Regions from separate parts of the Homo sapiens genome. Here regions 1, 2, 3 and 5 are each reported to be linked to region 4. The links are microRNA targets in miRTarBase. Many come from high-throughput screens and were not tested one by one. Region 4 holds a microRNA gene; each other region holds the end of a gene's coding sequence.
The links. Region 4 holds the annotated microRNA hsa-miR-4793-5p (ACAUCCUGCUCCACAGGGCAGAGG, at 2,495-2,518, shown strand). A microRNA usually pairs through its seed, bases 2 to 8, with sites in the 3' UTR of a target mRNA and lowers its output. Matches are read on the target gene's strand: a 7mer-m8 pairs with bases 2 to 8, a 7mer-A1 pairs with bases 2 to 7 and ends in A, and an 8mer does both.

Region 1: the mRNA of ACTC1 is a reported target of hsa-miR-4793-5p. Seed matches in the 3' UTR shown: 8mer at 4,442-4,449.
Region 2: the mRNA of RRP15 is a reported target of hsa-miR-4793-5p. Seed matches in the 3' UTR shown: 7mer-m8 at 2,187-2,193.
Region 3: the mRNA of SLC1A7 is a reported target of hsa-miR-4793-5p. Seed matches in the 3' UTR shown: 7mer-m8 at 4,844-4,850.
Region 5: miRTarBase lists ZNF345 as a target of hsa-miR-4793-5p. Seed matches in the 3' UTR shown: 7mer-m8 at 1,518-1,524.

The regions. Positions count from the first base shown.
Region 1 is chr15:34,785,933-34,792,021 of GRCh38, forward strand. ACTC1 (actin alpha cardiac muscle 1) reads right to left here. Exons shown (of 7, transcript NM_005159.5): 6 at 5,182-5,363; 7 at 4,298-4,623. The coding sequence ends at 4,480. The region is part of intron 2 of GJD2-DT (GJD2 divergent transcript); the gene reads left to right. Among named protein-coding and RNA genes, the nearest start is that of ACTC1, 6.6 kb to the right of the region's middle.
Region 2 is chr1:218,329,702-218,335,790 of GRCh38, forward strand. RRP15 (ribosomal RNA processing 15 homolog) reads left to right here. Exons shown (of 5, transcript NM_016052.4): 5 at 1,247-6,089. The coding sequence ends at 1,390. Among named protein-coding and RNA genes, the nearest start is that of TGFB2, 13 kb to the right of the region's middle.
Region 3 is chr1:53,082,475-53,088,447 of GRCh38, forward strand. SLC1A7 (solute carrier family 1 member 7) reads right to left here. Exons shown (of 11, transcript NM_006671.6): 11 at 4,709-5,753. The coding sequence ends at 5,535. PODN (podocan) reads left to right here. Exons shown (of 11, transcript NM_153703.5): 11 at 2,039-3,020. Among named protein-coding and RNA genes, the nearest start is that of PODN, 23 kb to the left of the region's middle.
Region 4 is chr3:48,640,668-48,646,756 of GRCh38, reverse strand. MIR4793 (microRNA 4793) reads left to right here and starts at 2,477; the gene lies at 2,477-2,563. CELSR3 (cadherin EGF LAG seven-pass G-type receptor 3) reads left to right here. Exons shown (of 35, transcript NM_001407.3): 22 at 500-667; 23 at 889-1,015; 24 at 1,108-1,314; 25 at 1,548-1,722; 26 at 1,929-2,041; 27 at 2,462-2,541; 28 at 3,080-3,203; 29 at 3,674-3,790; 30 at 3,873-4,021; 31 at 4,290-4,399; 32 at 4,748-4,906; 33 at 5,233-5,433.
Region 5 is chr19:36,877,529-36,883,338 of GRCh38, forward strand. It overlaps ZNF345 (zinc finger protein 345), which reads left to right. Exons shown (of 3, transcript NM_001242472.2): 3 at 1-2,047. The coding sequence ends at 769. Among named protein-coding and RNA genes, the nearest start is that of ZNF345, 30 kb to the left of the region's middle. RefSeq lists an enhancer at 1-1,103.

The DNA of each region.
Region 1 (6,089 bases), not on the chromosome of region 4:
TGACCCAATTCCTTGCTTACAATTGACTCTAGAGTTTGCTTCTTATCTACTATTTAAGCCCTGTTTTAATTCTGCTTTACTTCAGCCTTCCCTTGGGGTAGTTTTCTTTCTGTCTCCCCTCTTTAGTCATGACTTCCATGGAAGTTACAGTAAAACAATGCAGGAAAATAAGCAGACAATGATGCTGAAGGACATGCAGGCCACCCCTACTTAACTCTCAGCTGACCCAGCTCCCCTTCACTTCCAGCCTCAACCAGGGAGGGGAGGGGGCCCAGAACCACAAGAACTCAGAGAACTATAGTTGAACTGAAGCTCTTTATCCTCCGAGTCAACCTTTCTTGCATCTGCTGCACCCAGGGCTAATGAATGAACTTCAAAGAACGTCTTCAAACATCAAGTTCATCAGTGACCAGAGGTGTACTTTTGCAACCTCTCCAGGAGCTTTGTTTTGGATGTCTTCCTACCATGAGTTTAGTTACCATAGCAACAGCCAGAGAAGCTCTGCCTGGAAGAGAGATTTCTTGTATAATGAGCCTGGAAGACCTTAAGGTGAATAGACAACTTTTGCTGTTTTAGGCCTAAAAGACCTATATTTTTTCCCTCCCTATTAGTTCCTGGTATATATTTATAGCATTTATATCATATTAACCATAAAATGAATCTGACTTATTATTTCCTTTTAAAAATCCAGATAGTCTGATCATATAGAGATCACTGGGTCCCTGGGTCCTGAGGCCATACTGGAATATATTATCCAAAGGCTCTCTGTCTTGCTGCCTAGATTTGTTTGCATGAAGTCATTGCTCTTCTCAAGTCCTTCTCAGGACCTGTCAAATCAAAACTCCTGAGCTGGAAGGTGGGAGCCATCCAACAATCAATTCTTCCCCTACAAGCCACCAGAATTTTTTCCTCCTCTAGCTCACTGGGTATGGTGTTTGCACTATTTTGTCCTCTTCCTTTGGAGAATCACCTCTCCCCTGCTAAATAGTATTGCTCAGCCCCTGCAGTAAGAATGGTATGACTTGGTTCCTAAGCCTGACCAGGCTCAGACACTTTCCTGGGACTTCTGCCAGTACTATATGGGAAGGTATTCTTTTGTCTCAGAGGCTGCTAAGTTGGTAAATCCTATATTACCTATAGGATGGTGGAGAAATCCTATATTAGTCTGCCAAGGCTGCCATAACAGAATACCATAGACTTGGGTGGCTGTATTAGTCTGTTTTCATGCTGCTAATAAAGACATACCTGAGACTGGGCAATTTATAAAGGAAAGAGGTTTAATTGACTCACAGTTCAGCACGGCTGGGGAGGCCTCAGGAAACTTACAATCGTGGTGGAAGTGGAAGCAAACATGTCCTTCTCCACATGGTGGCCGGAAGGAGAAGTGCCAAGAAAAGCGGGGAAAAGCCCCTTATGAAGCTATCAGATCTCATGAGCACTCACTCATTATCAATCATGAGAACAGCATGAGGGTAACCGCCCCCATGATTCAATTACCTCTCACTGGGTCCCTCCACGACATGTGGGGATTATGGGAACTACAATTCAAGATGAGATTTGGGTGAGGACACAGCCAAACCATATCAGTGGCTTAAACAACAGACATTTACTTCTCACAGTTCTGGAGGCTGGATGTCTAAGATCAAGGTGTCAGCAGGCTTCTTTCCTCAGCTTACAGATGGGTCGCCTTCTGGCTCTGCCCTCACATGGCTTTTCCTCTGTGCTTGTACTCCTGGTGTCTCTTCTCCCTCTTAGAAGAACACCAGTCTTATTGGATTAGGGCCTCACACTTATGACTTCATTTAACCTTCATTACTTCCTTAAAGGTCTTGTCTGCAAATACAGTCATATTGGGAGATAGGGCTTCATATGAGTTTTGAGGAAACACAATTCAGACTGTAATAAATTCTATGGGAGAACTGGAAGGAAAGGTGGAGACCCAGTCACATTGTTCACATTGTATCTCTGGATACAATAAGTCAGCCCTACCCCTCTAAATATTTTATTTTCTTCAGTAATATTTCTTTTCTCTCCACTGTACTCTCCTAAATATTTAAACACATCTACATAATGGCCATTGTTTGGTCAAAATAAATGAAGAAGTGGTGTTTGGAGGTATTAGAAACTACAAACAATACTTTATTATAAATTAAGAAGAAATATAATTTATATAGTTCTTTGTTTATTGCACTTTAACCAAAGACGTAGGCACTATCCATGTCTCAGTTATTGTATACATATGAAGATTACCTTAAGCAAACATTTTTGTCTTAGTACCTTCCTTAAGCACAATTTTTAAGATTCAATTGTTCTAATACTTTATACCCTATAATCAAGCAAAGATGAGAAGACCTCAGAATTCAACAAGAATCTGGGTGCTTACCTCTTCTGATATAAATATCAGAAGCTGATTCTTAAAGCTTCTACTTTTACATAGAAATAAAAATGTCCTCTCCATTTCTAATCACAGATGGAAAGAACCAGAGGTGATACCCCAGCCAATCATCTACAGTTAAAGCATTAATACTGTGTTCAGAGGATACAATTCATAATATTTATGCACTCAATTGTACAGAGGAAAAGAAAGAGACACAAAAACTAGTGAAATCATACCTCCCCATGCATGGCTTTTAAACCAGTTCAACTGTGCTATAGGATACAATGGGGTGGTGGGGGCGGGGGGCATATGTACAATAATGTTTGCACCTTATCTAAATAAAATGCCACCAAGTTGATGTATTATTTAGCCTTTATTGCATAGAAGGCCTTCCATTTGAATATGCTACATACAGAACTCTAAACTCTGAGCTTTTTATTCACAGAAAATGTGCTCTCATACATCTTTGTGTCCCCTGCCCTTAATACTATGCCCGACCCAGAGTCAGGGATCAAAAGATATTTTTGGTATGAATAGGCAAAAAGACACACATAGGACCTTGAATGACAGTGGCAATGTATTACAATTTATTAAAGATGTCTGATGAGTCCAGAGTACTCCAAATATTGAACCCAAATTCTCAAAAGGCATGTGATAGAATGGGGTTACCCTTGATAAACTATAAAGTTAGAAAGATTATTTTAGAGACACCATCAGAGTAGGTGTCAGAAAATCTGAGTTCCTGTCTAGCACATTCCACAAATAAAGTTTATAACATTGCACCAGTTGCTTAATCTCTGTGTCTTGAATCCTCATCAATAAAATTCAATTAAGTCTATTCAAACACTTCTGTGAATGCTAACAGTTCACTGGCAATTAATTTGAAAACAAAAATCTGTAAGGCTTCTGCAATCTAGTTGAAATCTACCTTTCCCAGTGGATTTTCTAAAATTCATCAGCACCTACCAGCCTGCCCCATGTCTTGTATCCTGGCTTCTGCCACACTTCCTTCTGCTGAGATGTCCTCTCTGCTCTTCTCACCTCCCTAATTCCTGACCATTCTCTAAGACCCAGACCCACATACATCTCCTTAAAGCCTCCAGGCCACACGCACTGGGGGATTATGTGTAGGTGTGTGAACTCCTCGAGGATGGAACACATTCAATTCTTTTCAACGCTGCCCCTAGCAGCCTTCCCACCATACTTTGCAGAGAGCTCTGCACAGAGCAAAGCAAACACTGTGGCTCTCGCCTCCCCTTGCTCCCTCAGGACCTCGCAGCCTTCAGTTCACTCAACCCAAGATCTCAAGATTTCAAAGAAACGAAGAGATTGAAGGCTTCTGTCTCGCAAGTTAGTCACTGATCAGGCAGAAGTGTTTGGCTCCTGCTTCCTCACATTTGTTTTGCACACACACAATGGTCTTGATATGTTTAGAGGGTATTTGCAATGGGATGTGGCTGGCCCAACTGTCAGCTAACCTTCATGTTTCTTTCATAGCCCCCAGGAAGAAAATTGAAGAGTTCAAAGAATTGAAAAGTTAAGCCAATTCATTTAAAATAATCTTTGACTTTCTCATTATCAATATATGTGTATTTTCTGCAAGGTTACAAAAACAACTGGAACATATGTTAAAATAATCTTCAGTGTCATCTGCAGCAACTAATTCTAGAGAACTATCTTATTCAATTTCATTTCTTACTTATATGGAACTAAACCTTAATCTGCTTTTCAGGTATGAAATATATTCATGATTCTGTCTCAAAATATGAAATCAAAAGTTAGCATTATAACTCCCAGCTAACTGTCATATTAATTCATCTGGATGAACCTTGTGGTACTGAACTTTGACAATGCTCAGGGTGTCAAAGCAAACACCTGCCCCACCCCACGCCTACCCCAAAAACAAACGAGAGGCTTTTATAGGTTGCAAGTCCTGGTCTGGTTTATTTATAAAGCAATAAATATTAGAAGCACAAACAAATTGCACGTGTGTAAACAAACTGTACAATGATTGATGAAAGATGAGGGAAGGTGGTTTGGAAGACTCCAAGAAGCATAATACCGTCATCCTGACTGGAAGGTAGATGGAGAGAGAAGGCATCTTAGAAGCATTTGCGGTGGACAATGGATGGGCCTGCCTCATCGTACTCTTGCTTGCTAATCCACATTTGCTGGAAGGTGGACAGAGAGGCCAGGATGGAGCCCCCAATCCAGACAGAGTATTTACGCTCAGGGGGAGCAATAATCTGCAGAAAGAAAACAAAAACTTCCAGTGAACTCTGAAGTTCCAAGCAAGGGAGCAAATAACACATTGGGAGGATTCACAGAAAAAAACCATTAGATATTAATTCGCTATAATGTGGGATATGTCATACCACGAAATAATGTGGCCAATCAAGTTATATGAACTCACCTCTATTTCATCATTTATATTATTAAAGATATATTCTATTATTAAAATGGAATTTCTCCACTTACCTAGAGTGTAATTTGGCAACAAGCTAAATGTGTAGTGGAGCCTAGCCCAAAAGTTGGGAGCTTTAAAAATGTATTCAAAGATTTTGTTGCGTGTGTGTGTGTCTTTTTTTTGTCAAAGATTTATTTTTATTCACTGCTTAAAAGCATTTTGGAAGTTACCTATCTTGGGAAAAGTGCTAAGAAAATCAGAAAAAGTGGTAGAAAAGCTAACAGGTAAAGTTTGTAGGAGACAAGAAACTGAGTATGAGGGAAAAGGAATTTGGAACGTAGTTCTGCTTAGAATACCAAGACTTGCCTCGGATCTCCCACTCACAAAAGTTCTTTACCTTAATCTTCATGGTGCTAGGAGCCAGAGCAGTGATTTCCTTCTGCATACGATCAGCAATACCAGGGTACATAGTGGTGCCTCCAGATAAGACATTGTTGGCATACAGGTCCTTGCGGATATCAATGTCACACTTCATGATGCTATTGTAAGTTGTTTCATGGATGCCAGCAGATTCCATACCTGGGAACGAGTCACACACACACACACACACACACACACACACACACACACACACACATCACAGTGCATTCAGGTCAAGGTAGAGGGAAGAGAACAGAACTTCTTTGTGTGGGGGAGCTGTCACCATTTGTCTCTGAAACATATGTTCCCCTATAAGACACACTGCAGGGTGGAATGGGTGCCTCACAGTTAATCCACAATACAATGCCAAGAAAGGAGCAACTGTGCTTAGCACCTGTTTCAAGTAAACACCTCCTGAAACTCTCAGATGTATGAAGATGTATTGGAAAAGGAAAAGATACACGTTTAAACTAAAATGAATGTAATTTTTGTTTATGGACTTAAATCAGATCCTGACAAAGTTCCTTATGGAAAGCATTGCTTAGGAAGGATATTTGTTGACATATAAGTGCCCAGTTATTAATATGAGTAGGAATGTTATTGCATTTAATGATGAGGAACTTGGAAAGTCCAGCTACTTGGTAGTGAAACTTACGGGAATAAGTCAGCTCTTGTGAACTAGCCCTTTTCCTGCAGATACGTGCTATTCAGTTACTACTCTGTGTCATCCTTTATTTTGAGATGAACTCAGTGTGTCATCCTTTATTATATCACTAGAGCAGAACATAGACTTCCCCTTTAATGAGCCATCAGGACTTGAGGTTGAGCTGTGTGGGAATCCAAACTATGACTTCTTTTAACTCAAGGGCTTCTTGAGCCTTCTAG
Region 2 (6,089 bases), not on the chromosome of region 4:
CATTTATATCCCATTCAGTCTTCAAGTTATATTTAAGCACAAGCTCTGCTTGATATTTTGACCTCAAGAAGACAAGAGTGAGCCAATAGGACAGTTTTCCTATTTGCTTGTAATAGTGGTCAATTTTTTTTTTTTTAAATGGAATGAATGTTTCAGGGCTATCTTTTTTTAAATAAAGGGAAGCTATAGCAGTTAGGTAAGTAATCTCTTGTAACCCAGCAAATATCTTTAATATATATTATATTTTAAACTGTTTTTATGTAGTTAATGACAGCATAATGATAACACTGTTTTCTAACCAAATGTCATGGGTTCTTGTACCTTAGGTTTTTACAAAATTTTGTATTTCTGTGATTGACATAAATAGATATGCATAGACTGTTAGCCCCCTGAAAACAGGAACTTCGTTTTGTTCATCACTATGTTTCTAACATAGTGCTTGATACACAGCTAATTCTCAATAAATATTTGTGGAAGGAATGAAAAATTTTGAGTGCTGCATCTATTGTATTACTTAATTGATACCACAAGGTGGTACTGTTGTACCATGAAATGAAAGGCTGTAATTAGTACCACATAAATCCTGTGACTAAATGAAACGAATTGACTACCTATTATGTTTATTGCCTGCTTCATTTATTTATAATTTCAACATACGATTAGTCTTTGATTACATGATTGGGTCAGGCAGTGAGCTCATAACCTAAATAAAGAACATTTGGTTCAAATTTTTATAAAAACATTAAGTGAGATGGCATCTTAAAAAACCTAGCATAGTACCAATGTAGTTTCTTTTTCCCACTTTTAATTTACTTTGGGTTAAATGCCTTTGTTAAATTGTCAGTTGCGGTGAAATAATTTGCCCAAAATTTTCTAGTAAATTATCACTGAAGGTTAAATAGTATTGTAAGTCTGTTTTTTGTTGTCAGAAGTGCTTAAAAAATTAATACCAAACCTAGATTTATATTTTTTCCCTCACTTCAAAAAAATTTTTTTATTTTGCTTTCATGTTTCTTTTATGGAGTCCATACAATATTTTATTAATGTTTAGTTCTTTATTATACATTTGTACATATATAATCATAGTATAATCATAGTGTATAAAGTAAGTCGATTTATAATTTCTCTTGGTTTTACCCCTATTTTAAAAACTAAGCATTGAAAAGTTTGTTTTGTAGCTTGTACCTTTTTGTTTCCTTATGATGGAATTGACTTTTGAATATTTTGATTCTATAATTTTCCTTAGACTGAAGTGAAATCAGAAGAAGGCCCAGGTTGGACGATCCTACGTGATGATTTCATGATGGGAGCATCTATGAAAGACTGGGACAAGGAAAGTGATGGGCCAGATGACAGCAGACCAGAATCTGCAAGTGACTCTGATACATAAAGCATCATAGGAAATACAATTGCAGTCGTTTTATTTTTTCTAGAAAAATATGTCATCCTCTGATAGTTGGGGAATTATAAGGATACCATTTGTAAGAAAGCCAAAAGACTTTTGCCAGATTTCATATTTCCCCTTTTCATGTACACTTTATATATACTTCATTAAAATTATATTTTAAACCCTTGTATAATTTTAAGCATTGTTCCTCAGAACATTTGTAAAAGGATATATTTCTGCTTGACCAGCGAGATGTGCATTTTGCCAGGATCATATTGGTCATGTCTATTGGTGTATTATTTCAGTATCACCAATGTTTTCAGAAATACAGTACTAATTCATCATTAAACTCTTTGAAGTTAATATTTTTCTGCCTTCTAACTTATAGACTCAACTATGTATCTGTAGTTTTTGGGAATGGTTGGTGTTTTTTGCTTTGTGTTGGGAAGTTATTGAGAAAACCTATATAATAAAATTTAAAATTATAGTTTTTCAGATTTTGGGTCGTGATTTTAGTTTTAGGTAATCTGGAAGATATGATTTAAGAAACAACAGATTTCAACTTTTTTTTTTTTTTTTTTTTTTTTTTTTTTTTTTTTTTTGAGACGGAGTCTTGCTCTGTGGCCCCGGATGGAATGCAGTGGCGTGATCTCGGCTCACTGCAAGCACCGCCTCCCAGGTTCACGCCATTCTCCCACCTCAACCTCTCAAGTAGCTGGGACTACAGGTGCCTGCCACCACGCCCAGCTAATTTTTTGTTTTTGTATTTTTAGTAGAGACGGGGTTTCACCATGTTAGCCAGGATGGTCTCAATCTCCTGACCTCGTGATCCACCCGCCTCGGCCTCCCAAAGTGCTGGGATTACAGGCGTGAGCCACTGCGCCCGGCCCAGATTTCAACTTTTATTTTATTTCCTTTCATTTATTAAATAATATAAATAATGACAGATTTATTTTAGGTGTTAGCCTATTTTTGCATGAGAGATTTACAGAGGTGGAAATTCTCATGCTTAACTTATGCAATGAGACAATTTCTCAGGAAGCAAGTTTGACATGCTTTAGTCTCTCTCTTCTTTTTTTTCCTCCCAAATATTTGAGTTAGCTTAAATTCTTTTTTATGGACTGCCCAACCAGTGAATTGATGCACTTAGACAACAAGTAATCTGCAGCAGAATATTGCATCCAATTTGAGACTTGATTCCATATTATTGCCTTAAAGGCTATTAAATTGGGTGACTTTTAGTATCCAGCTGTTAAAAAGAGGAAAGACTGTTTAATATCATTCCAAAATTTTTGTGAAATGTGGCCCAAGATCTAAAGTTTTTAAGGGAATTATTTTTAATAAATATGATCTGTCCCTTTTTGAAAAGGATCCATCCCTTTTCATAATAAAAATAATTCCCTCCTACCACCCAGTTGCACATACTTGCATCTGTTATGTATTGAAGGATAATCCCCCCCAAAAAAACTATCCAAGAGCAGAGATGTTTATATTTTGAAACCCATTTGAGTGTTACAGTATTATATGACTAAAGCTGAATCAGTCTGTGGCCTGGTATTTGTTATCATAAAGGAAGATGTACACCTAAGGTATCAAGTGGTTAAAACAGCAAAGTACAAGATGCATTTTTGTATTTATTCTAACTTTTGAACATTAGTGTCTTTCAGTATAAATAAATGTGAACAAATATACCTCAGTAGTAATACAGGAGAACTAAATATCCTGCTATAACTTAATACAGATACATATTTCAATATGACTTAACAAACACACAATTTTGAAAAAAAAAAAAAAAAAGTGCAGCAACTTAAACACATTTTTCTCCCCAGAACTAAGATTACACTTAATTTAATTTAATGTGTTTCTGCGTTATACTAGAGTTTTGCAGGAATTTTTCTGAATAGTACATTCACATGATAGATACGGATAAATACCTTATTTACTAAAATGTTTTGAAACATATTTTATAGTCCCTCATTTGATTTGAAAAAATTTGACAAGATCTTCACATTGAAAGTAAGGACGAGAATATTTGCAGATTTCCTTCGTTCCAAAATTATTTTATTCCAAAGAAAAATTGAGTTGCCACTATCAGGAAAAAAAAAATGTATCACTTCTGTTAGAAGGCTATGAAGTATATATAAATTATATGACAATTTTTATCATATAGATTTGATATCTTCTATGTATTCGTATTTTTGCATCTTGGGTATTAAGCAAAATACCATATGTATAAATATGAAACCAGGAATGTGCATATTTTAGAAACTAATTGTGTATCTTAAGTGAATGTTTTGAGTAGTTCTGTCACCCCTATTCTAAATATTTTACCTACAACATTTAAATTATTCTGATATCAATCAGATAAATAATCCGAGTGTATTTCATCTTTCTACATTGTCTTTGTGGTTTTTGTTTGTTTGTTTTTGAGACGGTCTCACACTGTCACCCAGGCTGGAGTGCAGTGGTGCAATCTCAGCTCACTGCAACCTCCACCTCCCAGGTTCCAGCTATCCTCCCACCTCAGCCTCCCAAGTAGCTAGGACTACAGGTGTGCACCACCATGCCCAGCTAATTTTTTGTCTTTTTGATGTAGATGGGGTTACCCCATGTTGCCCAGGCTGGTTGTGAACTCCTGAGCTCAAGGGATCCCCCCGCCTCTTGCCTCCCAAAGTGCTTGGATTACAGGTGTGAGCCACCATACCACCTGTCTTTGAATTTTTTAACGAGGGGAAAGAAAACTGCAATTCCTGCCTCCCCATTTATTTAAACATAACACCTAGGATTTTATTTTTGGTAACTACTTAGAATAATATAGTAGGTTACTTATCTTCGGTTAGAAAGAACTATGGAAAATAGGAACCAATAATTTGGAAGTATTATTTCCTTATTTCATATATAGAAATAATTATCTTATTTCCTTATTTCATATATAGAATATTCTAGATACTTGGATGGCTGGGGTTGATGTTCTTAGTATTTATCATAGTTTAGCATTGGTTGTTATTTTTAAGCATCAGAATTTGAAAGCCAATGATAATACCTGATTAGGACTGAAAATAGAATTATCTTAGTAGTTTAGCACTTTTTATAATGGAGTTGGAGCACTGAATTTATTTTCAAATTACCTAGAATTCTGCATTGCTCAAACATTATTCAATTGATTGCAAAATATACCTTGGAAACCCTTTGGATAGAACAGTTCAGAGGGTTACCACTAGTACTTAGAGCCTAAAGTCACTCAGTAGGAGGTTCTCAAAGGTCTATTTGAAGGCAATCCAATTTCTTTAAAATAAAATATTTTTTGCCTTTTAAAACAGATGGGTGAAGAAAGGGACGTATAAATTCTGGGAAACCTCTTATGTTTTCCTCCCATTTCCTTCTATGTCTCCATTAATGTGCTAACTTGAAGGAATTTAACTTCAAGGAAAGTTGACTGATGAAGTTTATGTAGAGCTGTGAATATTATAATTTGTCAATACTTTATTGATAATGTTAACTTTGTTTTTATTTGGAAACATTTTTTCCAGTTGACCAAAGCAGAATTCATTCTGTTCTTCCCTCAAATTCATCTATTAGGATCAATGTGATTGACATTTATCTCCACTCTGCATGTCACTGATATGGTATAGACGCTATAAGCCCTGTAGATATTATGGGTATGAAGACTATTTGAGGTGAATTGGCAGTGAGAGCAAATTTTGGAAACAGGAGAGAGAACTACTTCGTGCCTATAAAAAGCTCTCTCACTCCTTCCCCAAGAAAACAGGAGTCTGAATTTTGGCCAGCTGGGTATTTGAATCTTACTGACTGTTGCAGCACTGGTAGTCCTGGTAAATTTTTTCAGTGGGCGAGCTTTTCTGAAATTTGATTAAACATATTAGTCAAGGGAATCTGTGAATAGATTTAGAAGTAGAATGTTTGAGGTGGTTGACAAGACATTTAGAATTGTGATTAATGTTTTAATAAAATGCTAAGTTAGAATGAATAATCATAATTATATAGATGGAAGATATATTCTAACAGTTCTTAAATAATTTTAGATTCTCTAAATTTAGAGTGTTTTCTAGCTTAGAGAGCAATATTAATATTTTTTACCTAGTCTACTGAACATAATTTCAGGGAGTTAGTATTTAGGACTTTTTACCTAGAGATGCGGTAAACCTTTTAAATTTAAATTTGCTTTCTTAAAATACCTGTTCCAACATTGCTCACCTTTCTTCTCCCTCCTTTTTGCCCTCTCCTTCAGTGGGAGGAGCACATATTCAGCTTTCTGTTAAACACTCTTTGGTTTTCAACTGAGTAAGGCAAGCAAGGATATATGTTAGAAGAGTGGGCATAATACTTTATATTAAAATTATAGGGACTAAAAGTCTAAATCATTGCTGTCAATAGGACTTTTTTTGATGATGGAAATAATTTATGTCTGTGCTGTTCAATATGGTAGCCACTCGCAGAGGTGACTACTGAGCATTTCACGTGTGGCTTGTGATACAGAGGAACTAAATTTTTAATTTTACTTAATTACTTTAAATTTTAAAAGTTACACGTGGCTAGTGGGTCTATCCCAACTATGAAGAGAATAAAGCTACAGAGCATCTATCTAGTCTAATGAAACAACAGTGAATTTGGGAATTGTAAATCTGTCTTAAGCTTTTTCCATAAACTTTTATTGATATAATTTAGGCATATACAAATACTG
Region 3 (5,973 bases), not on the chromosome of region 4:
TCTGGAGAGAGGGATCCAGGCATTGTTAGCCTTGAAACAATCACTCAAGCTGCAGGGGGCTGGGGAAGCTTGCCATGGGAGAGTGAGTGAGGGGGGCAGGTGACTGAGACAGAGCAGTTAGGAAAGGAGGTAGGAAAACCCCAGACTGCCGTGGGCAGAGGGCATTTGCACATGTATGTAACACAGGCACCTACATGTGCACATGCACACAAATGCACACGGATGCACCAACACACATACATTCATGTGCACACACGTCTCAACATGTACACACATCCACAAACCATGCACAGGCAGAACACACACACCACACACATGCACACAGACACACATACATGCTTGTACCCCATGACACATTTGCATGCCTAGACTATGTACATACGTGCACACACGTGTGTACATGCATGTGAGTACATGCACACAAAACACCCATGCGTACCCACGTATACGGGCCCTTACATGCACACCTGCATGCACACATGTACACATGATGCGTGCATGCACAGGCCTGTCTAGAAGTGGGGACTTGGCTGTGTCAGTGCTGCTGAGGGGCTGAGGGAACTGAGCACTGAGGGAGCTGACCACTGCGGAGCGCCCACTGGATTTTTCCACCTGGAGGCTGTCTGTGACTTTGTAGCAGCAGGGGAAGCTGGGATGAGAAGAGCAGCTGGAAAGGAAGTGGGTCCAGGCACTGCAGACCAGCCTTTTGAGAAGTTTGGCTGTGAGAGATGAGAGAGGGCAGAGGTGGGAATGGAGTGTGAAGTTCAGGAAACGCTCATTTTCTGAGCCTCACAGGAAGCAAAGGCCTCTCGAGGGGAGCCCTGTGTGAGGGGCTCTGGCAAGATGCCCCGACACACACATGCATCTTCCACACGCACCCTCTTAAAGGAGGGGGCTGGCTTGGGTGCTGGTGGGAAGAGGCTGGCCTGGAGGGGGAGTCACCGATGTAGGAAAGAGCTGGCTTTGAGGGCCCCTGTGGGAATGGTAGAAGTTGCTGGCTTTAGCAGGAGGAACAAAGGGCAGGGTGGCTGCTGTCACAGGCAGATTGGTGGCTTGGTGGCCAGATGTGAAGCCATGTCAGCCGGATCCCTCCAGTCTTCCGTTTTCTCTGTGCAGCAGGGAGGTTCTCCGCAGACCAAAGGTATGGAGAAAATGGACAGGTGGATCCACCCACAGCTGAGTTTTTCAGCCAAGAGTTCAGGACAGGAGGGCAAGGAACAAGGGAGTGTGTTGGCCGGAGGCTGGCTGCAGGCATGGGTCCTGGGGTCAGGTTGGGTAGGGAAGGAGGTGCAGATAGGAGGGCTGGTGGGCAGGGACTCAGAGAAAGACATTGGAGAGGAGCCAGGAGCGGCTGTGTGGTCGGAGGAGAGAGGAGAGCTGGTGAGGAGTGAGCCAGGCTGGGGGTCACAGGGCCAGGACGTAGCCGTGGGAGGGGCTGCCGGGCCACTGTTGAGTGTTGACTGAAGTAGGGCCTGGGACGAAGAGGAACCAGAGGGGGCTGTTGAGGGCCACTTGGGTGGGTGACAGAGGGAGCTGGGAGAAGGGCGCAAGTTGATGGTGAGAGAAGAGTGTGCACAGAGTTGGGTATCCGCAAGTGTGGAGGGGCTGGCAAGAGGCTGAGCTTGGGGGTCACCTTCCCCAGCTCCCAGGGCCCGGGAGTATGAAGGTAGAGCTGGTTCTCTGAGGTGTTGTCCTCACACAGAGTTGGGGTGGGTGACAGGGTGACTGGCCATCCAGTGGGGACACCACAGCCCTCATGAGGGGCTGTGGAGTCCTGGGGTGGGTGAGAATCTGCCCCATCTCAGGTCAGTTGAGTGGGGCTCTGGGAGAAGCCCTGGGGAGTGGCTGGTGGGACCCAAAGGCCTTCTGGCACCCCGCTGGCTCTGGGCTCCCAGGGCCAACGCTCCCTCCCTACTCATAGTAGCCTGGCCTTTCCAGAGCCCCCTCCAGCAGGGCTCCCCACAGCAGGTCCCCTCAGGCTGCTTGGGCTGGTGGGTCTGCCCTGAGCTGGCCCCTGACTCTCTTACATGTTCCACAGGACGATGGACCGCCGGACTCTTTTCTGCAGCACACGCCTGTGTGCTGTGAGCCCCCCACTCTGCCGTGCTCACACAGACACACCCAGCTGCACACATGAGGCATCCCACATGACACGGGCTGACACAGTCTCATATCCCCACCCCTTCCCACGGCGTGTCCCACGGCCAGACACATGCACACACATCACACCCTCAAACACCCAGCTCAGCCACACACAACTACCCTCCAAACCACCACAGTCTCTGTCACACCCCCACTACCGCTGCCACGCCCTCTGAATCATGCAGGGAAGGGTCTGCCCCTGCCCTGGCACACACAGGCACCCATTCCCTCCCCCTGCTGACATGTGTATGCGTATGCATACACACCACACACACACACATGCACAAGTCATGTGCGAACAGCCCTCCAAAGCCTATGCCACAGACAGCTCTTGCCCCAGCCAGAATCAGCCATAGCAGCTCGCCGTCTGCCCTGTCCATCTGTCCGTCCGTTCCCTGGAGAAGACACAAGGGTATCCATGCTCTGTGGCCAGGTGCCTGCCACCCTCTGGAACTCACAAAAGCTGGCTTTTATTCCTTTCCCATCCTATGGGGACAGGAGCCTTCAGGACTGCTGGCCTGGCCTGGCCCACCCTGCTCCTCCAGGTGCTGGGCAGTCACTCTGCTAAGAGTCCCTCCCTGCCACGCCCTGGCAGGACACAGGCACTTTTCCAATGGGCAAGCCCAGTGGAGGCAGGATGGGAGAGCCCCCTGGGTGCTGCTGGGGCCTTGGGGCAGGAGTGAAGCAGAGGTGATGGGGCTGGGCTGAGCCAGGGAGGAAGGACCCAGCTGCACCTAGGAGACACCTTTGTTCTTCAGGCCTGTGGGGGAAGTTCCGGGTGCCTTTATTTTTTATTCTTTTCTAAGGAAAAAAATGATAAAAATCTCAAAGCTGATTTTTCTTGTTATAGAAAAACTAATATAAAAGCATTATCCCTATCCCTGCAGCCTGTGGCTATGTCTGTGCTTGCTTCCTGCCAGGTGCTGGCCTGGTGCCGGGTGGAGGGGGCAGGATACAAGCCCCTCAGCGCCCTGGCCAGAACAGCAGACATCAGTGGAAAGTCCAGTTCTCGGGGCCCGCAGAGTAGCTGCACAGGCAGGCATCCTGGGAGAACAGGGCATAGCCTCAGGCGAGGGGGCCTGAGGTGTGTGCAGATGGCCCACTCGGGAATAGTAGGTGAGGCCTGAACCAGCACACGCGGCCTGTGAGCTTGCTGTGCATTCCCAGAGGTGGAGCATCCAAGCAAAGGACCTCATGGGCTTTGGGCCTGTTAAGGGCTCACCTGGAGGGTCATGGGTCACCTTTGCACTGACAGGGTGTTACTAGTGGGTTCTAGAGGAGAGCAGGGGACTGGAGGCAGGCCTGGGAGCTGGAGCAGAGCCGACTTGGGGGCCCAGGTCTCCGCAGACCTTTCCAGGAAAGAGCTAACAGATGCACCCAGTGTGCTTCCCACCCCAGTGGGAGAGCTGCCACCGGGAGGTGGTACCCAGCTCTGAGCTAAGAAGAGCCTCTGATGGGCAGAGCTGCCCCACTGTGGGTTGAGATGCTCGGGAAGTGGTGACCTCCCTGCTGCTGGAGGTGTGTAAGGATGCTCCTGCCAAGTCCACTAAAGAGCAGACTCCTGCCTTGTGCTGGGACAGACTCGATTGCTCAAGGGGTCTTAGAGATGTGACACCTAGAAGGGGCTGCTAAGCTTGTCTGCATGAAGGTGGGATGACCGATTGCATGACATCTGACCTCTCCCAGGTGAGGAGGCCTCAGGGAAGGAAGGATGCTCTCGTGGAGGCCTGCAGCCCCCAGCCCTGCAGTGGGAGGAGGTGTCCTGGGGTCGTGCTCTTCCCAGACTCCTCACACTCCACCCCTGGGAGGAGGGTGGAAGGAGTTCAGGAATGGGGCAGTGGGAGCAGGTGCCCTCTTGACGCTGAGTGACCTGGGGGAGGCCTGTCCCCTCCCTGGGCCTTAGTGTCTTCAAGGGCATCATGGTGCAAGCCCCTCCAGACCCCAGAGCTGTATCTTCTCCCCAAGGCATATCTGGAACAGGCTGTGTTGCCAGGGCCCTTCTGTGTGCCCTGCAGGCCTCCTGGAGGCAGCCTGGGGTGTGAGAATGAGGGAGACCATCTGGAAATGTCCCTGGGCACGCCCCTGTCTAAAGCAAAGCATTCACCACGGGGAGCCAGACTGGGAAGGAAATCTGTTTCTTCTTTGGGGACTGATCTCAAGGCCCTGCCTGCAGAGCAGAGCCTAGACCATGGCAGAGAGGTCTGTCCACACTGGACGATGCCCAGCTGCCCTGTGGTTATTGAGACAGGCTCCTGGGTAGGCTAGCTTATACTCTGTCTTCTGCATGTGACAGCTCAGATAGGACTGTCCTTACTGCAGCCACCAGGACAGGCTTCTCTGCACTCTGGCTGCCCATACAGGCCTGTCCACACACTGGCAGCCTAGACAGACCTGTCTACACTCCAGCCAAATGGACAAGCCTGTTAGATTCTGGCCACCTGCATAGGCCCGCCCATATCCTGGCTGCCCAGACAGGCCCGTCTGCACTCTGGCCGCCTGTATTAATTAGCCCAGTAGCTAATATCATATTTGCTGGCTAGCATAAGGTGTTGAAGCCCACAAGAAGTGAAAAACAAAATACCTTTATTTAGTTAACACTGAATTTGCAAACACAGAAAGGAATAGAAAACCTGACTCCACTTGGACGCACAGGCCTTTGGGGAGTTCTGACACCAGGGCCCCATCGGCAGCTCCACCAGAGCATCCTGGCTGCACCTCCTTCCCGGAGTCCTGGCTTGCCTACCTATTCCATGGGAGGTTGGCCTGGATGTGTCAAGGGGGCCTTTCAGCTCTAGTAAAGACATCTGTCTCCACATCCAAGGAGCTTTGCAAAAGACACGTGGCAGGACAGGAGACTGGACGCACTGTGGCCTGGGGAAGGCAGCGGGGCTTGGCCCTGGGCTGCTCCCCTTGGGGAGAACTGTGTGGCTGAGGCCACCTGTTATGGGGTGGGGCCTGGGCCTGGACACAGCTGCAGGCTGCCCTGTCCTCCAAGAGGAGAGGCGGGGCTTGAAAGATTTGAGTTAGTGTCTTGACCTTAACGTGAGACCTTGGACAAGTGTTTTCAGCTCTCAGAGCCTCAAGTCTGTCATCCAGAAAGTGGGGCCGGATAACCCCTGCCTGCCGCCCTCACCGGGCTCACACCGGGGAAACTGTCACAGCGGGGCCTCAGGCAATGCCGGGCCCATCACTCCCTAGATGGGGCTCCCCCATGCAGCCTTTCCCTTCTCTGAGATACATTTTCCGTCAAGCGGGGTTAATTCCAGCCTCTCAAGGGTGAGAAGAATGTGTGATCCTGGCCCCTGCCGGCTGCTCAGGAGGGTTGGAGAGTCGAGTTCCTGCCTCAGGACCCTGCCCCTGGAGGCCTCGCCTGCCCCTGCAGCTCCGCAGGCTCAGACATTGGTCTCCAGCTCACTGATCTGGATGGTGCAGTGGTTCAGACTCGCAGCGGGCAGCTCCTCATCCTGCTCCACTTGAACGGGGACGTGGTGGGGGCAGGTGGGGCCCAGGGTGAGCTCGGAGGCCTCGGCTACACTCTTCACACAGCCATTCTGCTGGGCTGCCACGATCTCCTGGAGGCTCACTGGCTTGGTCTCGCAGGGCAGCAGTTTCTGGTGAAGGGAAACAGGTCTTTGTAGCAGCAGGAGGGACCAAGGTTAGATACGAGGGAGGACTGAGGGCCAGTGGGGCAGAATGAGCTCAGGGCTAGGAACCACAAGATGGATTTTCCTGCAGACACGCTGTGTGACCTCGGCAGGTCACGGCCTCCCTGGGCTCCTGTTCCCAAGCGTCCTGCCTCCCACTGGAGCTGGCTTAGTAGAGGAGGGGACT
Region 4 (6,089 bases):
AGGCCCCTCACCCCTGAGCTTCCTACGAACTTCTCAGCCTGGCAGCCCCTTTTTTGGTGGGTAGATGCGTAGGTTCACAACACACAGAGAGGAGCACAGCTCCAGGGAGCCCCATCCTTGCCGGGTTCTGTGTGAATCTTATTCTCTGGAGTTGTGCAGAGTGACAGAGCCACAGGCTGACAGACACAGAGCCACACACAGGAGGGATCCATGAGCCAGGTACAGACAGACCAAAGGGCTGACAGAGACAGACAAGGACAGGCTGACTGATGGGGGTAGGAGGGAGGGCAATCAGAGGCAAACAGTTGCAGGTCCCCTGGAGCTGCTCAGCCCCTCAGCAGCCCAGCAGAAGCTGGAGGGATTCTTAGAAACAGCTTCCACTCTGGGGACATCCCAGACCCTGGGTCAGCCCTGGCGAGTGGCATGAAGACGGGGTGAGGCAAGCAGGCTGAGCATGGGGAGGTCAGCAGTGCGTAAGCCCAGATGGGTGTCTCCCCAGGCTTCCTCAGAACCCCGTCATGAACTCCCCGGTGGTCAGCGTGGCTGTGTTCCACGGACGCAACTTCCTAAGGGGAATCCTGGAGTCCCCCATCAGCCTAGAGTTTCGCCTGCTACAGACAGCGAATCGGAGCAAGGCGATCTGTGTGCAGTGGGACCCACCTGGCCTGTGAGGACCCCCATTCTGGAAACCCTTGGTCCCGTTAGCCCTTGGGAGGCCAACTAATAGTCCCAGCCTTCCCCTGGGGCCCCCACTAGTGCTGTTGTGCAACCCGGACCATGAGGAATGCTGTACCCCAACTCCAGGCACCCTCAGCCCTTCCCATGATCTCTCACAAACCCCTGCCTGACACTGGGTCACAGTTGTGTCTAACTGCCCTGTGGCTGCAGGGCGGAGCAGCATGGTGTGTGGACAGCACGGGACTGCGAGCTGGTGCACAGGAATGGGTCCCACGCACGGTGTCGCTGCAGCCGGACAGGGACCTTTGGGGTCCTCATGGATGCCTCTCCCCGTGAGGTGGGGCTGTGTTCAGTGTCCCAAGGAAGTGGGGGGTCAAAGGGACACGGGGATTCTGCCCAACAACCCATCAACCATCCCTGTCTCTGTAGAGGCTGGAGGGCGACCTGGAGCTGCTGGCTGTGTTCACCCACGTGGTCGTGGCTGTGTCTGTGGCTGCGCTGGTGCTGACTGCAGCCATCCTGCTGAGCCTGCGCAGCCTCAAGTCCAATGTGCGTGGGATCCATGCCAATGTGGCAGCCGCCCTGGGGGTGGCAGAGCTCCTCTTCCTGCTGGGGATTCACAGGACCCACAATCAGGTGCAGGATCAGGGCCAGGGAACTTGTGTCCTGATGACCCTACTGGCCCAGGAGGCCTGGGGCCAAAACTCAGGGTCAGAGGTCAGGGATGCTCAGGTTGGGGCCAGGGTTTTCAGCAGGATGCTGGGGTAAGATATTGTGGTTTAGGGGTGAGAGGTGGGAAGCAGATGCCTGGGGTAGGGGTCAGAGGTGGGTGAGGCAGGAGAGGTCCTGACACGCCCCCCTGCCCTCAGCTGGTGTGCACTGCAGTCGCCATCCTCCTGCACTACTTCTTCCTCAGCACCTTCGCGTGGCTCTTCGTGCAGGGGCTGCACCTCTACCGCATGCAGGTTGAGCCACGCAACGTGGACCGCGGCGCCATGCGCTTCTACCATGCCCTGGGCTGGGGCGTCCCTGCTGTGCTGCTGGGTGAGGGCTGTGACCCCCAACCTCCAACCATCACATGGCCTGACCCCTGACCCTGTCCCCACTCCTGCTCATGACCCCCAACCTCAAACCCCAAGCCATCTATTCATGGGGTTGCTGCTCTGCCCTCACCCATGCTTTCTCCCATACATGGGCTGGTCAGCAGCTCTGGAACACACACCCTCAGTCCTACCCTTTCTCTTCCCAAGGCCTTGCTGTGGGCCTGGACCCTGAGGGCTATGGGAACCCTGACTTCTGCTGGATCTCAGTCCACGAGCCCCTCATCTGGAGCTTTGCTGGCCCTGTTGTCCTGGTCATAGTGGTGAGTGCCCTGGACTTGGTGCCCCCTCTGTACTTCCCTCCCTCATTGGGGGAGGAGGTGCAGTGGACTCAGCTGAGGGCGGTCAGGTGGCATTCTGCAGGCTTCCTGGGCTCGGCCTTCATTTTTTCTGTCCTCTGGTCAGTAGCCACCCCCATTCAACTGGCATGGAGATGGGGGCGCGGGGTCAGAGATTCAGTTGCCTGTCCCTGCCTCTGTCTCTGCTTCTCTCTCTCAGTCCCTCTCTGGTTCCCAATTTCTTTTTCTGTGATGCTAAGCTCCTTTGGTGTGTGTGTATATGTGTGAATTTCTCACTGGTTCTGCCTCTCTCCGTGAATCTTAGTCTCTCTCTGTCTCTCATTGCCTCTCTCTCTCTCTCTCTCTCTGCCCTGCCCGGCCCCACATGTCTGGCCGTGGGTCCAGATGAACGGGACCATGTTTCTCCTCGCTGCCCGCACATCCTGCTCCACAGGGCAGAGGGAGGCCAAGAAGACCTCTGCACTGTGAGTTGGCTGGCTGGAGGAAGGGGGCTTCTCAGGATGGCAGGTCCCTCCTGGGTGGGGTCTGGGGCCCCCAGATCTTCCCTGGTGCAGGTTGGGCTCCAAGTTCTAGATGAAGGAATGAAGTCACACCTGCCCTGACCTGTGGTCCCTCTCTGGCGCCCTCGCTATACTGTAGCCCCACATGTGCTTCTGCCCTGCTGTCTCTCCTTGTCCTCTGGGTCCCCCCAGAGTCTCCCATGGCCTGGGTGGCTCACTTTGCCCCCTGCCCTGTGTGTTCCCACCTGTCTTCCGTGCCCTCCCTTGTGGCTCCCATACCCCTGTGTTTTCCCCACGTGTCCTCATGGCTCTTTGACTGCTCTCCTGTTTCTTTGTGGGACCTCCCATCTCCCCCAGTGTCCTCCAGAGACCTCCATGTTCCCGTGTGAGTTCCTTTTTTTCACGTTTCGTGTGTGGCCCCTGTGTGTCCTCCCGTGTTCCCTGCATGAGTCCTACATGAGCCTTGCATGTCCTCCTGTGTCTTCCCATGTCCCCACAGCAGGACCCTTCGCAGCTCCTTCCTGCTGCTTCTGCTGGTCAGTGCCTCCTGGCTCTTTGGGCTCCTGGCAGTCAACCACAGCATCCTAGCCTTCCACTACCTCCATGCTGGACTCTGCGGCCTCCAGGTGACTCTGGTGCCCCTCCCTTGCCCCAGAACCAGGTGGGCCTTCAGTAGGCTGGGGCCATCCCTAGGCAGACGTTGACCCTAGGCCTGGAGCTGACTCTTACTGGATAACTTTGCCAGGCTGGGTACTACCCCAGACCAGACACTGGCCCTAGCTGCTGCCCCCAGGCCTGGAGCTGACTCTAACTTAGGCACTGATCCCAGACTGAGTGCTGATCTTGGATCGACCTTCACCAACACCAAGGCTCCCGACCCCTTGCTGATCCACACCGACCTTACAGACTCCAGCCACTCCTGCTGCTCCATCCTCTCCCCTGCTGACCTTCCCCAACTCCCTTACTGAGTCCCGCATGGGCTCCTCACTGACCCACACTAGCCTACAGTGACTGACCCCATTGCTGACCCACAGTGACTTATACTGGTCCCTGATTGATCCCTGCCGACTCTGCTTTGACCCTCGCTGACCCACAGGGCCTGGCGGTGCTGCTGCTCTTCTGTGTCCTAAATGCAGATGCTCGGGCTGCCTGGATGCCAGCCTGTCTGGGCAGGAAGGCAGCGCCTGAGGAGGCAAGGCCAGCACCTGGGCTGGTGAGTCGGGATGGGGGCCCTGAGAAGCCAGAGTTTTAGGCTGCTTCAGGGTTAGCTCACACTCTGTCCCTACCACCCCCAGGGACCTGGGGCCTACAACAACACGGCTCTCTTTGAGGAGAGTGGCCTCATCCGCATCACTCTGGGCGCCTCCACCGTCTCCTCTGTGAGCAGTGCCCGCTCCGGCCGGACCCAGGACCAGGACAGCCAGCGGGGCCGCAGCTACCTCAGGTGAGAGGAAGAGCCTCCTTGTGAGGGAACACTCAGCTTAGTCCAGCCCCACCTTACCAGGGCTTGGCTGACCAGGTCCTAGGGCGGGTGGCTCCACCCATCTTGGCCATCTGGGGCCCTGCTTCTGCCTCTGCCCTAAATGCTTCCCACCACACACACCCAGGGATGCCATTCCACCCGCAGCTGGCTGTGCACTCAAAGACACTCCAGCCTCCAAGGCACCCCATCACATCCCTCTTTCATGGTGGGGGGGCTCCTGCTTTTCCAGGGACAATGTCCTGGTTCGACATGGCTCAGCCGCTGACCACACTGACCACAGCCTCCAGGCTCATGCTGGCCCCACTGACCTGGACGTGGCCATGTTCCATCGAGATGCTGGTGGAGTTGGGGCCTGGGGCAGGGAGGAGGGAGGCAGAGGATCTCTCCCCATCCCCTTTTCTTCTACCCCATACTGGGAGCAGTGGCTGACTGGGGTGGGACGATCTCCCCCAGGGTCCCTGCCTCAGGAGGCACCTACCTCTCCAGCCCTGGTTCTCCCAGTCCACTCCTGATTCGTCCTTCCCTCTGATAAGTCCCAGCCCTTCTGCTGCTACCTCCACTTCAAGCCCCGGTTCCTGTCCCCAACCCTAACCCCCTTGCCGTACCCACCTCTAGACCCTCAACTCCAAATTCCCTTATCTCCAAGTCCCTTACCTCTGAAAGTACTTCTGACTTTCCCAACTCCAGGCGCAGACTCCGACTCTGACAGTGACCTGTCCTTGGAGGAGGAGAGGAGTCTCTCCATTCCATCTTCAGAAAGCGAGGACAATGGCCGGACGCGGGGGCGCTTCCAACGGCCACTCTGCCGAGCAGCCCAGAGTGAGAGGCTCCTCACCCACCCCAAAGGTGCCAGGCGCCCTCTGACCCCTTGGGTGACCAAGGGATGCCCCATTTGTTATCCCTCCAGCTCCCCATCTTTCCTGCGGTTGGGGTTCATCCTGGTCTTTCTGACCCCTCAGTCATCAGGTTCCCCAACTTTTAGTCTCTGTCCACCTCCAGTTAAGGGGAGGGAGCTCACCAGTCACCCCCACCCATTGATCTCTGAGGAGATACCCTCCTGTTCCCACCTCTGCTCAATGAGAACAGCCAGGGTTTCAAGGGTCATTAGGGTCAGGGGTCATGAGTCACTGGGATCAACCCAGAAGCTCCTGTAACCTGACCTGGCTCCACAGATGTGGATGGCAATGACCTCCTGTCCTACTGGCCAGCCCTGGGGGAGTGCGAGGCAGCCCCCTGTGCTCTGCAGACTTGGGGCTCTGAAAGGCGCCTGGGGCTGGACACCAGCAAGGATGCAGCTAACAACAACCAGCCAGACCCGGCCCTGACCAGTGGGGATGAGACTTCTCTGGGCCGGGCCCAGCGCCAGAGGAAAGGTACAGTCCCTGAGCCCTGGCCCACACCGCAGACACGCTGGGGGCTGCTCATGCCCTGAGCCAAGGGATTGCAGCTTCCTCATCCCAAACTGAGAGCTCTTCTTACTCTGACCTAGGGCGCTTCTGCTTCTCTAGCCTGCTTCACGGTCCTCAGGGACTGCTCCTGTCCTGACCTGGGAATTCTCTGTCCCCCTCTACCCTGGCCAGCACCACAGGGGGACCACAGGCGACCACTCCTGCCCCAGCCCATCTGTTTTTCAGAGACCCTAGGAGCTGCTTCCCCCTGCCCCCCACCCAGATCCCAGAGCCCGTGCTCTGATCTGGAAGATTTCTGCCCCCTACTCTGCTTTTATGGGGACCCGGAGAAGAGGTTTCTGCCCTCACCCTTGCATCACAGGGACCTGGGGACTGCTCCTGTCCAACCCGGGGGGTTCCTGCATTTCAGCCAGGCCTGCATTGTCAGGACCTGAGGGCTGCCCCTCTTCTGACCTCAGGGAGTTTGCCCCATCCCCTGCACCATGAGACCTGCCCGCCCTCCCCCTGCCCCGGGACCACAACTGGAAGATGACTGCCCTTCCACTCTGACCCCTGTCCTGCTGCCTCTCTGGGACCACCAGGGTTGCCTCTGCTGCTCCCCAAGGGGTTCCTGCTCCCAT
Region 5 (5,810 bases), not on the chromosome of region 4:
AGCATGTGGAATGGCCTTTAGCAGTGGTTCGGCTCTTACTCGGCATCAGAGAATTCATACCGGTGAGAAACCATATATATGTAATGAATGTGGTAAGGCCTTTAGTTTTGGATCAGCCCTTACTCGACATCAAAGAATTCATACTGGTGAGAAACCTTATGTATGTAAGGAATGTGGGAAGGCTTTTAATAGTGGCTCAGATCTCACTCAGCATCAGAGAATTCACACTGGTGAGAAACCCTATGAGTGTAAGGAGTGTGAGAAAGCCTTTAGAAGTGGTTCAAAACTTATTCAGCATCAAAGAATGCATACTGGAGAGAAACCTTATGAATGTAAGGAATGTGGGAAGACCTTTAGTAGTGGTTCAGACCTTACTCAACATCACAGAATTCATACTGGTGAGAAACCCTATGAATGTAAGGAATGTGGGAAGGCCTTTGGTAGTGGCTCAAAACTTATCCAACACCAGCTAATCCATACTGGTGAAAGACCCTATGAATGTAAAGAATGTGGAAAGTCCTTTAGTAGTGGTTCAGCTCTTAATCGGCACCAGAGAATACACACTGGTGAGAAACCCTATGAATGTAAGGAGTGTGGGAAGGCTTTTTATAGTGGCTCAAGCCTTACTCAGCATCAGAGAATTCATACAGGTGAGAAACTTTATGAATGTAAGAACTGTGGGAAGGCTTATGGGAGGGATTCAGAGTTTCAGCAACATAAGAAAAGTCATAATGGTAAGAAACTCTGCGAATTGGAAACTATAAATTGAAATTATGTGCTGAAGGAAGGACTCTAAACATATGACTTAAGAAAATTCATAGTGGTGAAAATCTCTACAAATAGAACTAAGGTACAAATGCCTTACTTATGCTTCACAGGTTAGTCAGTCTAAGAATATTTATACAGGAAAAAAATCACCCCAAATAAAATAAATATTTGAAGATCCTTATCTATATTCATTCCTTCATTACTTTTGGAAAATTCTTACTTGTGAATGTTAAAAATGAAAAAAAAATCATTTATTATATTTTGCCTCAACTTTAAACATTGGAAAACTCATTTCTGGGTTAATCCTACTATATTTTTTCAATGGTCTTTTTTTTTTGTATTATACAGAATTACTGATTCATTGAAAAATTATTTTATTTATTGCAAGTCTAAATTTATCCTTTTTTTCTTTCCTGATTATCCTAACACCATTTATTCAATAACCTTGTCCATTTTCATATTTTTTTTATTGACTATTTGATGGTAAGTTACATTTTTATTCACATAAAGCTTGGATATCAGGTCAGTGTTTTTTTGTTTTTGTTTTTGTTTTTGTTTTTTTGAGATGGAGTCTCACTGTCACCAGGCTGGAGTGCAGTGGTGCAATCTCGGTTCACTGCAACCTCCACCTCCCGAGTTCAAGTGATTTTCCTGCCTCAGCTCCCCAGTAGCTGGGACTACAGGCGCCCGCCACCACGCCCAGCTAATTTTTTGTATTTTCATTAGAGATGGGGTTTCACCACGTTGGCCAGGATGGTCTCGATCTCTTGACCTCGTGATCCATCTGCCTCGGCCTCCCAACGTGCTGGAATTACAGGCATGAGCCACCATGCCTGGCCCAGTGTTTGTTTTTTAAATTTATATATATGTATCTATGTCTCATCCTGTTTATGGTCAATAACTGTTACTTTTAAGTATCCTTTAATACCTGTACCTTTTGTTTTAGAAGATTGTTTACTTTCCTTTTATAAAATTATACTCTCCATTTTAGCAAAACAGCTTTCCCTCATCATAATGTAGATAAAAAGAAAAAAAGGATATGGTTACCTGTAATCTTACCAATCATAGATAATCACTGTCAAACTTTTGGAGCAAATCCTTTAATACTATCTCTCATTGTTTTGGAAACAAGGTGTGATTATGCTATACTATAACCAGCCCTTAATATTTTTTGTCTGTAAATATGTTGTTACCATTTTATTGGCTTTATAGTATTCACCTGTCTTTATCAAACCCCAATTTTGTCAAATATTAAAAATTTTGCCATTATAAACACTTACCTTGATGGCCCCTTTTCAGTGTGTCTGATTTATTTATTTATTGTTCATTTCAGAGATAATGTATCAATTGCTTTTGCATATAAAAGATTTTTACATTACAGATAAAGCCGGCCTTTCCTTTGAGCAGCATTCCTGGCCTCAGTTCCTTTCCAATGTTAACCAATTTACTTATTCTTCCAGATCCTTTTATATGCATCTGTAACATACCTATGGTAATGTGGGTAGAATCAATACCTCAGAGCCTTATTGTGTGGATTCTATAATTGTGCCTATCACATAATAAATGCTTAGTGAATGTTACCCATCACTATTATCTTCTCAAGCTTCATCTTTATTATTTCTAGAAAAACTTTTAGCCATGATCCATACCTTACTCAACAACAAAGACCTCATAATGGAGAAAGACATTCATTTAAATGAATGTAGGGAAAATTTGATTGACATTCTTTCCTTGTTGAATAAGAATATTTGCTGCCAGGCACAGTGGCTCACACCTGTAATTTCAGCACTTTGGGAGGCCAAGGTGGGTGGATCACTTGAGGCCAGGAGCCTAGCCAACATGGTGAAACCCCATCTCTATTAAAAATACAAAAATTAGCCAGGCATGGTGGCGTGTGCCTGTAGTTCCAGCTACTCGGGAGTCTGAGGCATAAGGATTGCTTGAACCTGTGGAGGTTGCAGTGAACCAAGATTGCACCACTGAACTCCAACCTGGGTGACAGAGCAAGGCTCTGTCTCAGAACAAAATAAAAATAAATAAATAAAAAATTGTCCTACAGAAAAAATAATAAGATTATAAAGTGTGAGAAGACAAATACACTATAAAATTTGTACCAGGGTAGAAGTAAAAAAACTAGCAGTTTTCTCCATTGAAATCCAAATATTAATTCAGTACTCATCTGCATGATTCTTTGCTTAAAAATAAAATGCAGGCAGGCACAGTAACTCTTGCCTGAAATCTCAGCACTTTGGGAGGCTGAGGCAGGAGGATTGCTGGAAGCCTGGAGTTTGAGACCAGCCTGGGTAACATAGCAAGCCCCCATCTCTACAATAAAAGTTTTAAAAATGAGCCAGGCATGGTGGCCTCCAGCTACCAGAGGCTGAGGTGGGAGGATCAGTTGAGCCCAGGAATTCAAGGCCTCAGTGCACTATTATTGTGCCACTGCACTCCAGCCTGGAAAACAGAATAAGATCCTGTCTCTAAAAATAAATGAGTAAATTAACTAAAATCAAATACATTATTTTTTAAATAAGTGGCACTGAATAGATTACATAGCAAAACCTGTGAGGACCTGTAATATACAGAGGAAATTTTATAGCTCTAAATTCATTCATTTGTTAGAATGTTAAAGAAATTATAAATAAAGAAACCAAGCATATAACCCAAGAAGCTGGAGAAAGAATAACTACAACAAAAACCCTAAGGATAATGGGAGGGAAAAATAATTTTAGAATAAAAAAAGCTAGATCAATCACAACCTAATGTTTTGAAAACAAAAATAGTAGCAGTTCTCATAAATAAAGGTATATGAACATGAATGCAAAAGCGACATTACTCTAGAGACTTTACAGATTACAGGTTGAGCATGCTTAATTTGAAAATTCAATATCTGAAATGCTCCAAATTCCAAAACTTTTTGAGCTCAACATTATGCTCAAAGATAATTTCAGACTTCTGGATTAAGTATGCTCACCTGGTAAATATAATGCAAATATTCCAAAATCCAAAACACTTCTGGTCCCAAGCATTTTGAGGGATACTCAGCTTATGTTTATTACGATTACATGTAACCTTTTAATAATTATTTTGAAAATTGAACATTTTAGTAAAAGGATTTTAATCACCAGAACTGACTCAAAGTGGCATAGAAATGGGTATTATATAAGGGATATAAAGCAAAAACTATATCTAGGAAGGCTGGGGAAAAAAACCCTGTAGCCAAAGTCTCTTTTATACCCCCCAGTCAGGTCCCTTGAGTGAATATTCTGGCATTCAATCACATTTTGCATTGGAAAGAGCAAAAGATGAAAATATATCAGCATTAGTATATTTTATGTCTTTTTAATTTGAGGTAATTAGATTTTTTAATTTTTAAAAAGAATGGAATAGGAATCATTAAAAACAGACTAAAGTAACATGAAATCTTAAGATGCTACATATAAAATACATCACTTTAAATATGAAACTAATTTTTAAAGTCCTGCAGATTAATCTGTTGGAGATATATATTGAAACCCACTTTCAGAGACATTAAAATGCGGGGTAAAAAGTGCATTTTAGAACTGATAAACTACTTCATCAATGATTTTAATGGTTCCTTTTCTTTAGATTTTCAAATTCGTTGATATTGGCAAACAGAATTGGCTTTCAGTTTTCAGTCTCTGTATATATATTTGTATTTCTACTCATAGTTTTATTTTTAAACCACTTTATTCCTCTAAATTGATTTGAAGGAGTCCCATTCATTTTACTTGTTTTTTTTTTAAAAAAAACCTTATCTGGGTTTTCTTCATGCTTTTGACTATTTTTGTTTGCTTTTTCTATTTCAAAAATATATTTCACTATTTTCTTTTTATTTGTGTGTATTTCTGTTGAGTACATGTGCTTGGTTAATATATTTTCAGTCTCTTTTAAATTGGAAGCATTTAAGGCTACAAGATTTCCTTTGAATATTGCTGTATCTGGGGCCCATGGTTTTTTTTTCTTCTTGAGATGGAGTCTCGCTCTGTCACCAGGCTGGAGTGCAGTGGCGTGATCTCGGCTCACTGCAACCTCCGCCTCCCAGGTTCAAGTGATTCTCCTGCCTCAGCCTCCTGAGTAGCTGGGACTACAGGCATGCGCCACCACGCCTGGCTAATTTTTGTATTTTTTAGTAGAGACGGGGTTTTACCATGTTGGCCAGGATGGTCTCGATCTCTTGACCTCGTGATCCGCCCGCCTCGGCCTCCCAAAGTGCTGGGATTACAGGCGTGAGCCACTGCACCTGGCCCCATAGTTTTTTAAAAATTAACTTCTAGATAATTATTATTTTAATCTTGATTTCTCTTTGATTCACTAGTTACCTAGGTGTCTGTATGTTTGTGTGTGTTTCTAAATTTTCAAAAACCTGTGAAAAAAATTTAGCATATGAACTTATAATGTGTGTGATCTGTGAAACTTCATTAAAAAGTTAAAACATTAATTTATTATTTGTGGCCAAATATACGTTAGGTTTTTAATACATTTTATAGATATATGATGTGAAATAATATATATTCTCTATAAAACACAAAGTTCTACTTAATTATATTAAGCTTCGTGATTATATTATTTAAATATCCTCTGATTATTTTGTTTAATTCTGAAAAGTGGGCACAAAACGCCCAGCTATATTGTTTCAAGGTCTTCTGTTAATATAGGGGTTTTACTTTTTATGTTTGGTTGCTGTATTTTTCACTGTGATGTTGAATTCCAATTTCTCTAATATTGAAAATTCTGCTTTGGCCAGTAGAGCTGCACTAGGTCTGTTGTGTCAGCTTGTTCTAGGTATATATCCTTATAAACACCATATAGTTAGTGTTTTATTTTTAACCCAATTTGTTTTTGTATTTTAATTGGAGAACACCATATATCTATAGGCAGGCTTACTCAATTTCTATGAAATCACCTTTTAAAATATCTTTTTCTATTAAAGAGCAGAAAAGTAACTAAAATTCTCAAACTCTGTTGCTCTTTCCTATGTAGCTACTCGTCATGGTCATTTAATGCATCGTTTCTCTTCA